Regions from separate parts of the Homo sapiens genome. Here region 2 is linked to region 1. The links come from fine-mapping of genetic effects on gene expression. A gene starts in region 1. The other region holds a variant in brackets. All regions are shown on one strand. Distances are between the middles of the regions.

Region 1 (2,915 bases):
ACCTGTTCCCTTAGTCAAGCCTTCACCTCTGTTTGAACTGGGACATTTCTAAGGCTCATTCAATGAGTATGTGACTGTCCCAGATTATCCAACTAAGCAAATCTCCTACTCTTGCCAAGCATGAGCCCTGTCTTCATCCGAATGCCTCTGTATCACTTCAGCCTCAGGTCTCCTATGTGTTCCCGCTGCTCCGAGCCGGGTATCACTTCCCCCCACCGTTTCTCCAGGAAATCCTCCAAGGGACAGTCGGCTCAAGGAGCCAAATGAGTGAGGGAGGACAGAGCCTGGAAGAAACAAGGCAGTCCAAAAGAAATAAACCCACCAACCTGAGACAAGTCTTTCCTCTTCTTACAGTTGATACCTCCAATGAAGACCATGTTGGGCATGACCGGCCTAGGATATTCAAGCACAAAGTCATATCTTAACAGCCAAACAGAGACCTTCTGATATAAGGTGATTATATCCACATCTCTCTTGAGGACAGCTGATGCGAGTTCTTCATACTTTGAAAACAGACAATAAAATAGATAGGGCTCCAACAAATTAACAAGGAAGTTGGCCACTCGTTGGGAAAAAGTCATGTGGTCTGAAAACTTTGTGTAGCACCTGGGAATGTAGGACACAGGGTCTGGGCTTCTGCTGAATGTATGCTCCAGGGAACACGGAAAACCCCTGAAGAGGTACACAGATGGTAGGCCCAAATACTCAGCCAGGATCACCCCACAGGGTAAGGCTGGGTCTGTGAAAAGAGCATCAAACTTGCTCTCCTTAAAGAAGTTCAGGGTGTCCCTGTCCTGCAGGAGGCTCTGGCAGTTGATGAAGTACAGGCCAATAACAATCATGTTATTCCTGTACTCTGTCTGAGGAGCAGTTAGGAATGATCGCTCAGCAAAGTGATTGTTTCCAAATGATTGGTAACGGTTCTTCAGCTCTTCTTGGTCATACGGCACTGGATAGATTTTTCTTGTGTAGTATTTGGATTCTTTCAAAAGCAAATTAACTTCAGGCACCACCACTACAATCTCATGACCCCGGTCACTGAGAACCTCAACTATATCCTTCATACTAAGCCAGTGGCTTCCGTCCTGAGGGACCACCAGCAGCTTGTCACCTACAACCATGCCCCAAAGTGCTAAGAAGAAAACCCCTGCAGAAATTCTCTGAAATGAGCGAAGGAGGCAGGCCATCCTGGAAAGAGTTAAAGTAACAACGGTAATAAAGAGTTTTCACTCTCCAAATCACAGGGCTCCTAGGTATTTTCCCTAAACTAACCACTGCTTTTCACAGGTCCTGTCTACCTCTCCCTTGCTCTGAATTTTACCCTTTGATATGTAAGAACCCAAATTAATATTTAACCATTTTAATCACATGGTTAATATGAACCAACTATGGCCGTGTCAGCTTTCACCTGAGCTTCTGGGTGTTTCTCTTCAGCTCCACAAGTCTGCTTCTCCCTCTCTGAAAAGTTATAGCAACACTTTGAAGATGACTTGGAGAGACCCCTGAGGACCCCCTGCCAATTCTCTATCCCGAACTTGCTGGATTCCTCATCATTGACGTTGTCTGTTATGTCCATGATGTGCGGGAATTTTTCTTGCACACGGACCTATTCTCTAACACCAGCTGGGTATCCTACAATTCAATTCCATTCTGAACTGAATTCTGAGTTAGCACGGACCCCACAGGTTAAGGGCTCAGTCCTACAAGACTGCCCTCACTTCAGACACCAATTGCAAGTAGTAGGTCCCCAGGTTACCCACAACTTCTGTCTGACTTGGCAAAAATCAGAGGTTCACACACCCTCTTTCTTGGAGTCAATCATTTGCTAGAATGGCTCACAGAACTGAAGAAAACAGTTTATTTACTAGGTTTGGTTTATTACAAAGGATATTGCAAACAATACGGATGAATAGCCAGAGGAAAAAGTACAAAGAACAAGATATGGGGGTATGGCCATGGAGCCCCATCTGCCATCTCTGGGTGCCCCACCCTCCACACCTTCAGCAACCTGAAAGCTCTCTGAACCCTGCCCTTCTGAGTTTTTATGTAGGCTTCCATACATAGTAGGCATGATTGATTAGATTGTTGCCCATCGGTGATCAAATCAATCTTCAATCTCTCTCTCCTTTCTTCCCTCTAATCGCAAGGGTTTTGTTCCCTGGCAACTAGCCCTCATCCTTAGAGACTTTACATCTCCTTTACATAAACTTAGGTGTGATCGAAAGGGATCTGTTTTGAATAACAAAAGATTCTTTGTTCACGTTTATCGCTCCCACCACTTATGGTTTCAGGAGCTGTGTCCAGGAAACAAAGACAAACATATATTTCTTATTATACATCACAATATAACAACATTCAAACTGTTACTTGCCTTTAGGAAATTAAGATTTGAGAAGTATAAGTCTAGCCAGTACGTGGTGAGAATCCTAGAGCAGGAGTCAGAAAGCCTGGTATCTGCTTCTGGCCCAGCCACCCATCTGCCAGGGGAGTGACTCCTCTCCTGAGCTTCAGGTTTCTCAACTGAGGCCCAGAAAGGGAGGGTCACACTGGCCCTGCCTGCTAACCACACTGCTGAGGGCGGTCCCAGAGCAAGACCTGTGTAGAAACTAGGCTGTCCCAGTGAGAGGTGGTACCTTGAATTACTAGAACAGACTTGCCCAGAGCTAGTCATGCACACCTGGCTGGCACGCGAGTTCCTGTTCCCACCCACAAGTTTGGCACCGGAGGTGTTCTGGGGCCCAGGAAGGGAGAAGAAGCCTGAGCAACATGATTAGAGGGGCCACTCCAAGGACAGGGCTGGCCCCCATGGGGAACATAACCAGGATGCAAATTCATTGTTCAAGGCATGCGAAGACTCAGCTCAGTCCAAGCTGGGAGCAGCCTCCCAAGAGGATTGGCAGCTTACAATGATCAAA
Region 2 (2,915 bases), 95 kb after region 1:
TCAACAGAAAAGTAAAAAAAGTAAGGTTGCAGCATTAAGTCATAAGTGCATAGAGTTAACTGTGCCTACTGTACTATTGCGATAATTTCATAGCCACCCCCTGTTGCTATTGCAGGGAGTTCAAGTGTTGTAAGTATCCACTCAGAACGCCACGTGAGGCTGATCATCTCCATGTGTGCAGTTCATCCCTCCAGTAAATTGTGTATCATAGTAAACACTGATCTCACAGTTCTCATGCATTGTTTGTCATGTTTGCTGCATATCAGAAACCCTAAATAATACCATGGTGCCCATACAAAGTGTCACTAGTGATGCCTCAAGTGCTCCCATGAAGCAAAGAAATTCATGATATTATAATGAAAGTTGAATTGCTTGACATGTACCATAGGTTGAGGACTGCAGCTGTGGTTGGCCATCATTTAAAAAAAAAAAAATGAAACCAGATAAGGACCATTGTTAAAAAAAGAAAAGAAAACTCACTAAGCCATCACTGCAGTGAGGCCAGCAGGCTTCAAACCTTGCACTTTTTCCAAAATACCTTTTTATCTCATATTAAAAATGCAGCTTTTCAATCTCAGTAGACTCCACTGCCAAGGTAGAAACAAGGATATTCAAAGAGTTAATGGATAAAAATATCTAGGATTCCATCCATGGGTTAAAGATTAATAGTGAGAAAGGTCTTTCTGAGAAACTGGCAGATTTTTTTAACCAAGTGAAGACTCTCATATATCCTAAGTGTTTAAGGAGTCTCTTGGTGGTAACAGTAATGACAGCACCACGGTGTGCACAGTCCACACGGAGGAATAAGTTCTTTACAGCCCCATGGGAAGTCCTCTGGACCCTATCAACAAATCCAAGAGCAAAAGTAGAATATTAAGGTAGGAAAACAGTCCAGATTGTTGGGGAAAGCTCACATATTTCAGAAGAAAAAGACTGAAACTAGAGTCATTATATCCATAGATAAGTTGTCAAAGATTAATTCTGTATCATGCTTATCTAAATAAAATTTTATTATAAAAATGCAGCTTTTATGTGGGCACAGGCTTGTTACAAGAAAGGCATACCTACATTCTCTACTATGACCTGAGAAAAACAAAGTCATTATATAACAACACAAAGCTAAATAAAGGTGAAGGATAT[G/A]AAGCTGGAGAATTTAATGGCAGCAAAGAATGGTTTGCTAGTTTTAGGAAGAGGTTTGGCTTTAAAAATGTCAAGATAACAGAAGCCATATGCAGCAGATGAGTTCCCAGAATTCATGAGGAAAAGCTTCGAGGAGAAAGAATATCTGCCCAAACTGGTTTTTAATTCATGCAAAAGTGCCCTATCTAGAAAAAAAAATGCCACAAAGGACATTTATTAGTAAGGAAGAGAAGTGGGCACCAGGATTTAAGCCAGGAAGGGATAGGCTAACTCTATTGTCTTATGCAGATGTTGGTTCCATGCTTCTTGTACAGCCTGCAGAACTGAAGGCTGAACATCTCTTCTTTATACATTAGCCAGTCTCAGGTATTCATTCATAGTAACACAAACAGACTAAAACACCAGGTGCTTGTGAGCAGGAAGAGCTGGTCCGTTCATATCCTGGTGGTGGGATGGCACAGCTACTTGAGAATATTGTTTGGCAGTTTCTTAAAAAGGTAAACATATACCTATCATAAAGCACAGCTATTCTATTGCTAGGTATTTATCCATGAGAAAAAAAAAGAGCATACTTCCTGTATTGCATGTATTTGTTAATTTTCTGTATATTATGATGTTTCCACATCTTAAAATCCCTTTCTGGCTGAGAATGGAGTCCCTTTCCAAGCCAGCCAATTATTAGAGAGAGCAAAGGGCCCAGCCTTATAGCTCAGAGCCCACTGAGATTATCCAAACCAGCCAGTCCTAAACTCTTTCTCCTGCCCTGCCTGTCTTTCCCACAAAAACTGTAATAGGCCATGGTCTAGGCTCTCCTCTTGCTCCTGTCCCTTCTGCCTCTTGCATTTCAAGTCAAAAAGTGTACAAGGTGCCACGGTGCCACAGCCCTTACTTCCGACCTATAGCAGTCAGGGTTCAGTGAGAGAAGCAGAGCTGCTGTGCATACCCATGGTGAGGGATTGGCCAGATGCATGGTGGTAGCTGACTGGATGATCTCTGCAAACTGCCTTGGTGTCTGATGCTGGAACTTAAGGACCCCAGGGTGGGTCTTCAGGCAGGGCAGATGGATGTAAAGTGGGGACAGCGAGGAGAAGCTAGGTCCCACAGAAGGGACTGGAACTCGGGTTGTTTTCACTGCCTCCAACCTTGATGAAGAAGCTGACCTTTCTTGATGACTCCTGTATTAGTTCGTTTTCACACTGCTAATAAAGACATACTTGAGGCCGGGTAAATTATTTTTTAAAAAGAGATTTAATGTGTCCTGGGCCCAGCCCAGGAAACCATTTTTTCCTCCTAAGCTTCTAAGCCAGTGGTGGGAGGGGCTCCCATGAAGACCTCTGATGTGCCCTGGAGACATTTTCCCCATTGTATTAGGGATTAACATTTGGCTCCTTATTACTTATGCAAATTCTGCAGCCTGTTTGACTGCAAACTTTCTGAACCTTTATGTCTGCTTCCCTTTTAAAACGGAATGCCTTTAACAGCACCAAGTCACCTCTTGAATACTTTGCTGCTTAGATACTCACAGCTCCACATGGCTGGGGAGGCCTCACAATCCTGGCAGAAGGCAAAAGGCATATCTTATGTGGTGGCAGGCAAGAGAGAAAATGAGAGCCAAGTGAAAGGGGAAACCCCTTATAAAATCAGATCCCGTGAGACTTATTCACTACGAGGAGAACAGTATGGGGAAAACCACCCCCTTGATTAAATTATCTCCCACTGGGTCCCTCCCACAACACACGAGAATTAGGGAGCTCAAATTAAAGATGAGATTTGGG

Direction of the effects. Positions count from the first base shown, and alleles are read on the strand shown. Sizes are in standard deviations (SD) of each study's normalised expression.
As copies of A replace G in region 2, the expression in stomach of the gene that starts at base 1,302 in region 1 goes up (small effect, 0.35 SD a copy in GTEx).

Evidence for each region. PIP is the estimated chance that this variant, and not a neighbour inherited with it, causes the effect. A credible set is the group of variants that fine-mapping cannot tell apart.
Region 2: its variant is the best candidate, but not a certain one, in a credible set for the expression of UGT1A6 in stomach (GTEx, PIP 0.51).

What each region holds. Positions count from the first base shown.
Region 1 is chr2:233,691,277-233,694,191 of GRCh38, reverse strand. It overlaps UGT1A6 (UDP glucuronosyltransferase family 1 member A6), which reads right to left and starts at 1,302. Exons shown (of 5, transcript NM_001072.4): 1 at 327-1,302. The coding sequence starts at 1,187. All of the region lies in intron 1 of UGT1A8 (UDP glucuronosyltransferase family 1 member A8), which reads right to left. All of the region lies in intron 1 of UGT1A10 (UDP glucuronosyltransferase family 1 member A10), which reads right to left. All of the region lies in intron 1 of UGT1A9 (UDP glucuronosyltransferase family 1 member A9), which reads right to left. It also overlaps UGT1A7 and UGT1A. RefSeq lists enhancers at 1,950-2,556, 2,557-2,915.
Region 2 is chr2:233,596,388-233,599,302 of GRCh38, reverse strand. It overlaps UGT1A. Among named protein-coding and RNA genes, the nearest start is that of UGT1A8, 20 kb to the left of the region's middle. The variant G/A (reference allele first, on the strand shown) is at 1,141.